2 separate regions of the Homo sapiens genome follow, and region 1 is linked to region 2. Evidence: fine-mapped expression QTL. A gene starts in region 2. The other region holds a variant in brackets. All regions are shown on one strand. Distances are between the middles of the regions.

The links. PIP is the estimated chance that this variant, and not a neighbour inherited with it, causes the effect. A credible set is the group of variants that fine-mapping cannot tell apart.
Region 1: its variant is the best candidate, but not a certain one, in a credible set for the expression of PCNA in monocytes (Quach 2016, PIP 0.90).

Annotation. Positions count from the first base shown.
Region 1 is chr20:5,049,557-5,054,935 of GRCh38, forward strand. No RefSeq gene overlaps it. Among named protein-coding and RNA genes, the nearest start is that of SLC23A2, 51 kb to the left of the region's middle. The variant G/T (reference allele first, on the strand shown) is at 3,244.
Region 2 is chr20:5,116,668-5,122,046 of GRCh38, forward strand. PCNA (proliferating cell nuclear antigen) reads right to left here and starts at 3,291. Exons shown (of 6, transcript NM_182649.2): 1 at 2,911-3,291; 2 at 2,102-2,199; 3 at 1,943-2,010; 4 at 803-997. The coding sequence starts at 3,131. PCNA-AS1 (PCNA antisense RNA 1) reads left to right here and starts at 2,919. Exons shown (of 1, transcript NR_028370.1): 1 at 2,919-3,302. LOC124900464 (small nucleolar RNA SNORA26) reads right to left here and starts at 4,872; the gene lies at 4,750-4,872. RefSeq lists enhancers at 1,865-2,745, 2,485-2,634, 2,746-3,626, 3,075-3,244, 3,375-3,824 and a silencer at 2,825-2,884.

The sequences.
Region 1 (5,379 bases), 67 kb before region 2:
ACCATGTTGGCCAGGCTGGTCTCAGACTCCTGACCTCAAGTGATCCACCCGCCTTGGTGAATCATGTTTAAATGTAGATCTTCTCACTAATTTCATTCAGCAGACAGTAAACTCTTTGATCTGCATATTTCTTTATCTCAGGATAATTTTATTCTCTTATAGTTTCAATTATTAGGCTTAATCCTTTTTGTTCTGATTTCGCCTGAGAAACACTGATTATATGAATGCTAGCATATCAGCTAGGGATTTCAGGGAACATGAATTGTCTGAAATTCATGTTTTAGAAAACTCAGACACCAGTGACTTAAAATAGGTGTTTATTTTGCTCACATAATGAAATGTCTAGGGATAGGCAGTTGAGGGTCGTGGTTCAGTGGAATAAGGATGTTGGAGCCCAAACCCCCCAGTGCCCTCGGCTTTTTCATCATCGTCAAAATTTGGCCTCTCTAACACCAGCCTCACCTCTAACAAAACCAAAATAATGTCAAGAAAAGAAAAGGGAGAAAGGATATTTCCACTGTGTCTCTGACCCAGCTTTGTGTTCTCTGCCTGCTATGATCCTCTTCGTCTGTTACTCTGTTCTTTTTTGTCACATTCCAGGCAAGCTTTTTTAAAGGTCATCCTCCAAAATGGATTTTAATGCTATTCTTGAATTTTAGTTTTCCTGCAATCCTTTTTGATATCATCCAACTTTCCTCTAACTTATCCTGCTGTCCTTTCATCTCAGTCATCTCTCCATGTGTGACGTTCGGCTTGCTTTTAAAAGGACTCAGAGTTTTTCCTTGTCTACCAAGTGTGTTGTAATACTTTTTGGAATGCCTGCTCAATCCGTTATCCTTCCCCCTTCTCTAAGAATAAGCTCCCTGGGCTTGGGAAAGATTTTATTTTATTTTTATTTTTATTTATTTATTTTTTATTTTTTTTGAGACAGAGTCTCACTCTGTCACCCAAGCTGGAGTGCAATGGCATGATCTTGGCTCACTCCTGAGCTGGGATTACAGGTGCCCACCACCACGCCCAGCTAATTTTTGTATGTTTTTATTATTTTTATTTATTTATTTGTTTTATAATTTTGTTTTTTTTTTTGAGACTGAGTCTTGCTCTGTTGCCCAGGCTGGAGTGCAGTGGCACAATCTCGGCTCACTGCCGAGCTGGGATTACAGGCGCCCACCACCACGCCCAGCTAATTTTTGTATTCTCATTTTTTATTATTTATATTTATTTTTATTTATTTATTTATTTATTTATTTATTTATTTATTTATTTATGACAGAGTCTCACTCTGTCGCCCAGGCTGGAGTGCAGTGGTGCGATCTTGGTTCACTGCAACCTCCACCTCCCAGGTTCAAGCGATTCTCCTGCCTCAGCCTCCCAAGTAGCTGGGACTACAGGTGCCCGCCACCACGCCCAGCTAATTTTTGTATTTTTAGTAGAGACAGGGTTTCACCATACTGGCCAGGCTGTTCTCGAATTCCTGACCTTGTGATCTGCTTGCCTTGGCCTCCCAAAGTGCTGGGGTTACAGATATGAGCCACCCCACCGGGCTTATTTATTTAATTTAATTTATTTTATTTTTTTCTGAGATGGAGTCTTGCTCTATTGCCCAGACTGGAGTCCAGTGGCATGATCTTGGCTCACTGCAACCTCTGCCTCCTGGGTTCAAGCAATTCTCCTGCCTCAGCTTCCTAAGTAGCTGGGATTACAGGTGCACACCAACACACCTGGCTAATTTTTGTATTTTTAGTAGAGACGGGGTTTCACCAGGTTGGCCAGCCTGGTCTTGAACTCCTCAAGTGATCCACCCACTTCGGCCTCTCAAAGTGCTGAGATTACAGGCATGAGCCATTGCGCCTGGCCACTTTCACTGATTTTTGCTGAACTCTGGTATCTAACATGAATGTTGGTTGATATTTTCATGTATGTTATCAAAGAAGACAAAGTAAAACAAGAGCTATATATTTCAGAACTTCACTTGTTAATCAGAGGTAGGAGAACTTCTTTGCTGAAAAAAAAAGATTATGAACACTGGAAGAACATTTCCTCAAATGTTTGTTCATGCTATTCCAATGCAAAGGCTACAGCTACAGATATGACATACTTTTATCAACATTTTCACTAGTATTTTTTTTTTTTGAGACAGGGTTTCCAGTTGCACAGACTGGAGTGCAGCAGTGCGATCTCGGCTAATCCCAGATGTTTGCAAGGCTGAGGCAGAAGGATCGCTTGAACCTGGGAGGCAGAGAGTGCAGTGAGCCGAGATTACTCTATTGCACTCCAGCCTGGTTGACAAGAGTGAAACTCTGTCTCAAAAAAAAAAAAAATCAATGAAAACATTCCGTTAGAATCAACTTGCTATATGGAATTAGAAATAAATGTATGTTTTAGGCTGGGCAAGGTGGCTCATGCCTGTAATCCACGCCTGTGGGTAGATCACTTGAGCCCAGGAGTTCCAGACCAGTGAAACCACATATCTACAAAAAGAAAAAGAAAAAAAAAATTAGCTGGGTGTGGTGGTGCGTGCCTGGAGTCCCAGCTACTAGGAGGCTGAGGTGGGAGAATCACTTAAGCCCAGGAGGTCAAGACTGCAGGCCGGGCGCGGTGGCTCACGCCTGTAATCCCAGCACTTTGGGAGGCCCAGCACTTTGGGAGGCCAAGGCAGGCGGATCACCTGAAGTCAGGAGTTTGAGACCAGCCTGACCAATATGGAGAAACCCCATCTCTACTAAAAACACAAAATTAGCCTGGCATGGTGCTGCATGCCTGTAATCCCAGCTACTCAGGAAGCTGAGGCAGGAGAATTGCTTGAACCTGGGAGGCGGAGGTTGTGGTGAGCCGCGATCGCGCCATTGCTCTTCAGCTTGGGCAACAAGAGTAAAACTCCGTCTCAAAAAAAAAGACTGCAGTGAACCGAGACTGTACCACTGCATTTCAGCCTAGGCAACAGAGTGAGACATTACGTCAAAAAAAAAAAAAAAAGGAAAAGGAAAAAAGGAGAAATACATATATTTTATCATCTGTAAATTGTATACCATATATCCCTTATATCAGAAAAATTTATAATAAACGTGTATATTAATATATATGCATTTTTTTTTCTGGAAAGTTGGCTGTAAAAACATCTGTTAAACATCACTGGATGGCTACCTCACATTCCCAAATAACATGCCTCTCATTTCCACGCAGATTAACGCATTGCCTTTATTTGTGTGTGTGTGTGTCTGTGTGTGTGTGTGTGTTTTATTT[G/T]GTTTTGTTTTGAGACAGAGCCTCCTTCTGTCACCCAGACTGAAATGCAGTGGTGCAATCTCAGTTCACTGCTGTCTTGGCCTCCTGGGCTCAAGTGATCCTCACACCTCAGCTTCCTGAGTAGCTGGGATTTTGAGATGGAGTCTCCTCAGTCCCCCAGGCCAGAGTGCAGTGACATGATCTTGGCTCACTGCAACCTCTGCCTCCTGGGTTCAAGTGATTCTCCTGCCTCAGCCTCCCAAGTAGCTGAGATTACAGGTGGCCACCACCATGCCCAGCTAATTTTTGTATTTTTAGTAGAGATGGGGTTTCACCATGTTGGCCAGGCTGGTCTCGAACTCCTGACCTCAACGGATATCTGTCAGTCTCCAAAAAAAAGTATATATATATATTTCAGGATCTGATCCCCCTTATTATCTGCATCTTATCACTGCTATCCCCCTACTCAAGACACCCTCTTCTCTCCTCTGGATTATTGCAGTCATCTCCTGGTGGGCTCTGCTCTGATACCCTTGCCTTCTTACCCAACAGCCTAAGTGGTCCTTTAAAAAAGTCAGATGACAGCCAGGCATGGGGGCTCGCACCTGTAATTCCAGTGCTTTTGGACGTTGAGGCAGAAAGATTGCTTGAGCCAGGAGTTCAAGGCTGCAATGAGCTGTGATCATGCCACTGCACTCCAGCCTGGGCAACAGAGCAAGACCCTGTCTCTGCTATTGTTGTGGGAAGTCAGGGACCCTGAACAGAGGGACCTGCTGAAGCTGTGACAGAAGAACATAAATTGTGAAGATTTCATGGACATTTGTTAGTTCTCCAAATTAATACTTTCATAATTTCTTAGGCCTGTCTTTACTGCAATCTCTGAACATAAATTGTGAAGATTTCATGGACATTTATCACTTCCCCAATCAATACTCTTAAAATTTCCTATGCTTGTCTTTACTTTAATCTCCTAATCCCGTCATCTTCGTAAACTGAAGATGTATGTTGCCTCAAGACCCTGTGATGGTTGCATTAACTGCACAAATTATTCGTAAAGCATGTGTGTTTAAACAATATGAAATTTGGGCACCTTGAAGAAAGAACAGGATAACAGCGATGTTCAGGGAACAAGGGAGATAACCATTAGCTCTGGCTGCCTGGGAGCCGGGCAGGACACAGCCACATTTCTCTTATTTACTATAAAAAAAGTCAGTTAAGACATTACAAAGTCCTTCTTCTGTCCAAAACCCTCTGTTATGGGCTGAATTGTGTCCCCCTCCAATTCAGTTCATATGTTGAAGTTCTAAGCCCCAGTACCTCAAAATGTAACTGTATTTGGGGATAGAGTCTTCAAAGAGGCAATTACGTTAAAACGAGGTCATTAGGGTGGGGTCTAATGTGTATGACTTATGTGTTTATTAGAAGAGGAAAATGGAGGCCAGGTGCAGCGGCTTATGCCTGTAATCCCGGCACTTTGGGAGGTCAAGGTGGGCAGATCGCTAGAGCCCAGCAGTTCGAGACCAGCTTGGGCAACACAGCAGAACCCCGATTCCATAAAAAAATATAAAAATTAGCCGGGCGTGGTGGTGTGCACCTGTAGTCCCACCAGCTATTTGGGAAGCTGAGGTGGGGGAATCACTTGAGTCCTGGAGATCGAGGCTGCAGTGACAAAAAAGAAGAAGCCAGATGCAGTGGCTCACACCTCTAATCTCAGCACTTTGGGAGGCTGAGGCAGGTGGATCACTTCAGGTCAGGAGTTCGAGACCAGCCTGGCCAACATGGTGAAACCGCGTGTCTACTAAAAATACAAAAATTAGCTGGGCTTGGTGGTAGGTGCCTGTAATCCCAGCTACTCGAGAGGCTGAGGCAGGAGAATTACTTGAACCCGGGAGGTGGAGGTTGTTGTAAGCCGAGACCATGCCACTGCACTCCAGCCAAAGTGAGACTCCACCTCAAAAAAAAAAAAAAAAAAAAAAAGAGGAAAATTGGACACCACACATAAAGGGAAGACCATGTGAAGTTATAGAAGAAGACTGCCATCTCAACAAGCCAAGGAAAGAGGCCTGAGGAGAAACCAACCCTGCTGACACCTTGGTCTTGGACTTCAAGCCTCCAGAATGGTGACAAAATTAGTTTCTGTTGTTTAAGCCATCCAGT
Region 2 (5,379 bases):
TTTAAGATGGAATCTTGCTCTGTCACCCAGGCTGGAGGGGAGTGGCATGATCTGGGCTCACTGCAACCTCCGCCTCCTCGGTTCAAGTCATTCTCCCATCTCAGCATTCCAAGTAGCTGGGATTACAGGTGTGCGCCACCACACCCGGCTAATTTTTATATTTTTAGTAGAGATGGGGTTTTGCCATGTTCTTTCTATTTTGGTTAAACAAGGGCTCTCTAGGTACTCTCAAAGTTGCATGGAGTCTGCTTTCTAGCCTTAGTGAGAAGTCTCCTTCCTGTTTAACCTTTGATTCCTACAGCCTGTGACTTTGGCTAAATTGTCACTTAAGGTTGCTCAGCCTGCTTCTCCACCTTTAAAATGGGCTACCAATTGGACCCACAACATGTAAGCTAATATTAGGATTACATAAGTGCTCCAAACAGGTAGACTTTTACTCCTAACCATATCCTTCTATTGAGCTGCTGTCCTATGCTCAATTATTTGGTAAGAGAGTAAGTATCTCCAGAAAGCTAAAGGTTATACGCCTAACTTCCCAATCCTACCCTTAAGAGCCGGTGTGGACTTGATCCATAAACCACTGTTCTGTGGTATGTACACGTGCTGAATTTGTATTCCCTTCTTGCAAATATAATTCTAAATTGGATGACACTTATAAATCATTCGCAGATTTCAACAGTATCTCAATTTTCAGAAATTACTTGGGATCCAATTCTGTCTACTTTTAATTTTAGCAATTAACCTAATAAGCAGTATTATAATTCTCTTCAAACTATTTTCTTTTTACTTAAAAACTACTTACAGCTTCCTCCTCTTTATCGACATTACTTGTCTGTGACAATTTAATGTTTCCATTTCCAAGTTCTCCACTTGCAGAAAATTTCACTCCGTCTTTTGCACAGGAAATTACAACAGCATCTCCAATATGGCTGAGATCTCGGCATATACGTGCAAATTCACCAGAAGGCATCTTTACTACACAGCTGTACTCCTGTTCCTATTAAGAACAAAAATTTTCCAAAAGTTAATTGTTAGAAATTTAATGATTTGGCACCCTCACTTTCTTAAAAGGCAACACCTAAACAACTCAGAATCAATATTTTCTGATTACTTTAAAATATGACTTGCGTAATTTCTTAACAAACTCCACTCAAAAAAATAAATGGCTATTAAATGCACCATCCAGGGAACAAGAGCCTCCTCCTCCTCATCCTCCAGGGATAAAGTAAGAGAACATTAGAGTATGGCACAGAAATCATGATGGCGCAAGCAGGCCTAACTACTTTCTAAAAGAAAGCAAGAGAATATATTAGGCATTTTCAACATTCAAACATTTCTTCTCTCCTTTGGTGTTTATAAACCTAACCTGGATAAATTTCTTCCAAGTCAGCTTTAAAATCCACTTAATAAAAAGCAAGCATTCTAGAAGGAAACAAATTTTAAAAGAGGTTCATGGAAGTTAATGCAAATAGACAACTGGCAGTAAACAATAAATTTAACCTGTGAGTTTTAGACTTGTGGTGAACAACTATCCAAATACTAAAATCTCTCTTTGAAACATGCACCAGTAGATATATTTCTAGAAAAAGTTGTTATGAAGTAGGCTTAAATTATATTAACATATCTTGACGGAGGAGGATCACTTGAGGCCAGGAGTTCCAGACCAGCCTGGGCAAGACTGCCCCCACGCCCACACACAAAAATGAAAAAATTAGCCAGGTGTGGTGGGACAGGCCCGTAGTCCTTCCTAGCCACTTAGGAGACTAAGGCAAGAGGACTGCTTGAGCCCAGGAATCCCAGGTTAGAGAGAGCTATATGGCACTACTGCACTCCAGCCTGGGCAACAGAGCCAAGACCCTGTCTGTAAAAATAAACAAACATTCTATGACATAACTATCGTGCCTGTGTACAGCACTCTCTACAATGAGAAACTGATACTCACTGGAATTCCAAGTTGTTCAACATCTAAATCCATCAACTTCATTTCATAGTCTGAAACTTTCTCCTGGTCTACCAAAAGAAAGCAGATGCTTTTGAGAAATACTGACACAGAGTTTTGATTTTCTGTAGCTTCGTGACTCGGTAAAAAGGTACGACTTACTTGGTGCTTCAAATACTAGCGCCAAGGTATCCGCGTTATCTTCGGCCCTTAGTGTAATGATATCTTCATTGCCGGCGCATTTTAGTATTTTGGACATACTAGAAGACAGGAGACACATGCTTTAAAATCAACGCCGTCTGCTGAAGGGCTGTATTTCGAACGCGGTTAGAAGGGGTTACCACTCTCACCCATCAGGCCGTCTCAGAACTGGTGGAGGGTAAGCGGACTGCTGGAGGATGCCATTATTAATGCAGACGTTTTGGGACGCATCTGGCAGTATTTATACTAAAATACCACCAGCAGTGTCCCTTCTGGATAGAAACAATCTCCTGCCACTAAGTAGGATGACAGGCTGCCACATTTCTCGCAAGGGCATTATAAAGCATTTAAAGTCAACCGCGACTGAGCCGGGAGGATCGCTTGAGCCCAGAAGTTGGAGACCAGCCCGGGCAACACACCGAGACCGTCTCAGAAACAAGAAAGCCACAGCTAAAGCGTCCATTCAAGGCCAACAGGATTTAGTGAGCAAAGAGCCCTGGAACAGTGTTCCTGGCACTGCGGAAAAACCCTTGATTTTCCCGCCACCACCCGCTTTGTGACTTTGGCGCGAAAAAGCAGGTTCGCGCAGCAGCCAGCGCGGGCTTTTCCGAACCGCGCGCTCAGCTGGGCCCCACCCCACTGCGTGGCAGGCCAATGAGAAGGCGCGGATGGCCCACGCCAGCCAATGAGGGCTAGGCTCGAAAGCGCTCCCGCCAAGCACCGGAGGTGCAGGCGGGCCGGGGCCGGCTTCCCGGGGCCGCGAGGCTCACCTGGTGAGGTTCACGCCCATGGCCAGGTTGCGGTCGCAGCGGTAGGTGTCGAAGCCCTCAGACCGCAGGGTGAGCTGCACCAAAGAGACGTGGGACGAGTCCATGCTCTGCAGGTTTACACCGCTGGAGCTAATATCCCAGCAGGCCTCGTTGATGAGGTCCTTGAGTGCCTCCAACACCTTCTTGAGGATGGAGCCCTGGACCAGGCGCGCCTCGAACATGGTGGCGGAGTGGCAACAACGCCGCTACAGGCAGGCGGGAAGGAGGAAAGTCTAGCTGGTTTCGGCTTCAGGAGCCTCAGAGCGAGCGGGCGAACGTCGCGACGACCGGCTGAGACCTAGAAAGACAACGACCACTCTGCTACGCCTGCAACCGTTTAATGCCGCCGCGTCCGCAAGCGCGCGCTCTCACCCTGCGCCGCGTTGCGACGTCACCACGCTGTCCAGCCCACGGCCTTGCGGGGAAGACTTTAGGGCCAATCGTGTCCATGCTCCCCGCGAGGCCCGCCCCCTAGAGCATACATTGGAGGAAGCGGGCGCAGGGCGGGGCAGCGTCGCGCAGGTCTCCCCGCCTCTTTGACTCCTGAACCCGGCCGCAGAACAAGTCCGGGCATATGTGGAGATCGGGTCCCGGTCCCGGCTCGTCAAGCCCCAGCTTTATGGTGGCTCCTCAGCCTCCCACTACGTGGGTAGAAAGTTTCCAGCCACGAAAGTGAAAGTGAAATGCAAATCAAGCCTACCGGGAGGAAAAGCCTCCTTGCAGCCTGAAGAGAGTACAGCTGCTGCAAATATGCACTTTATTTTTCAATTACAGAATTGATGCGCTCGTAGGTGTCACAAGATAAAGAGGTGAATTGTTCTGTTAAACTTAGCTCCCTATCATCCTCTTAACATTCCCCCGCCAGCTCTTATAATCACTCAATCGTTCATTGTATAAAGCTTTTAAAGCTTTTTTAAAAGTTCGAATACACTTTTTTTTTTTCAAAAATGCACTCATTCCGTAAACACTTGGAAAAGTACTTAATAAAGTACATTTAATTTTATGCCACGTACATCTTTTATCATATCAGTACCTCTTTAAAACATAGCATCACATGTATATAACATAATTTATCAATCTCCTGTTGTTTAACTACAAACACCTTTGAGCACTTAGGCAATTTTGGTGATATCAACTCCTTGAAGTAATACAGCTGAGTCAAAGAGCGTACACATTTAATATTTTTTCTTTTCTTTTCCTTTCTTTTTGAGATGGAGTCCTGCTCTGTCATCCAGGCTGGAGTACAGTGGCGCGATCTCAGCTCATTGCAACCTCCGCCTCCCAGGTTCAAGTGAGTCTCCTGCCTCAGCCTCCCGAGTATCTGGGATTACAGGTGCCTACCACCACCCCCGGCTAATTTTTGTATTATTATTATTATTTTTTTTTAGTAGAGACGGGGTTTCACCATGTTGGCCAGGCTGGTCTTGAACACCTGACCTGAGGTGATCCACCTGCCTCGGCCTCTCAAAGTGCTGGGATTACAGGCGTGAGCCACCACGCCCAGCCAGAAATTTTCAATTGTTACAGGATGGACAGGATTTGTTGTTTCTCTCTTGCTTTCTTCACACCACTTCTCTTTAGTTACTTTTAATACCTTGGTCAGCAGAATTCTTTAGTTTTTCTACCATGTATCTAGGTATGGAGTTAGTTTTATTTGTCTTGTTGAGGGAACTGAAGATTCATTTCAAGTCTGACATATTCTCAATCATTATGGCTTCAAATATCTCCTCTCCTTAGTCTATTCTTTATCTCTGGAATGCCTTTCTTTCCTTTTTTTTTTTTTTTTTTTTTTCCTAGTTCAGCTGTGACTCCATACAAGGTTCTAAGATGAGTTTCACAGTCTCTTCCCTGGATTTTGTGGAGACTTAACTTTACCCTTCTGTATCAGCCTCTTAAAGCACTGGGTCAGCCTTAAAAGGGAACAGGAAAGGGCATTTCTATTATAAGATGCCTTCAATTGTAATATGTACCATTATTTTATGTAGCACAAGCAAGAAAACTGTCAAACTTTTTTTTTTATTATTTTCTAGAGAGGGGAGTCTCCCTTTGACACCCAGGCTGGAGTGCAGTGGCAAGATGACTACTCACTGCCACCTCCAACTTCTAGGCTCGAGAGATCCTCTTGCCACCTCCCAAATAGCTGGGACTACAGGGGTGCACCACTGTACCTGGCTAATTTTTAAATGTTTTTGTAGAGAGAAGGTCCCACTATGTCGCTCTGGCTGGTCTCCAACTCCTGGGCTCAAGCAATCTTCCCAATCGGTCTCCCAAAGTGTGAGATTACAGGCATGAGCCACTGTGCCCAGCCTCAAACTGTTACACAATGCTTTATCACTTAGAATTTCTTTTTTTTTTTCTTTTTCTTTTTCTTTTTTTTTTTTCTGAGACAGAGTCTCACTCTATCACCCAGGCTGGAGTGCAGTGGTGTGA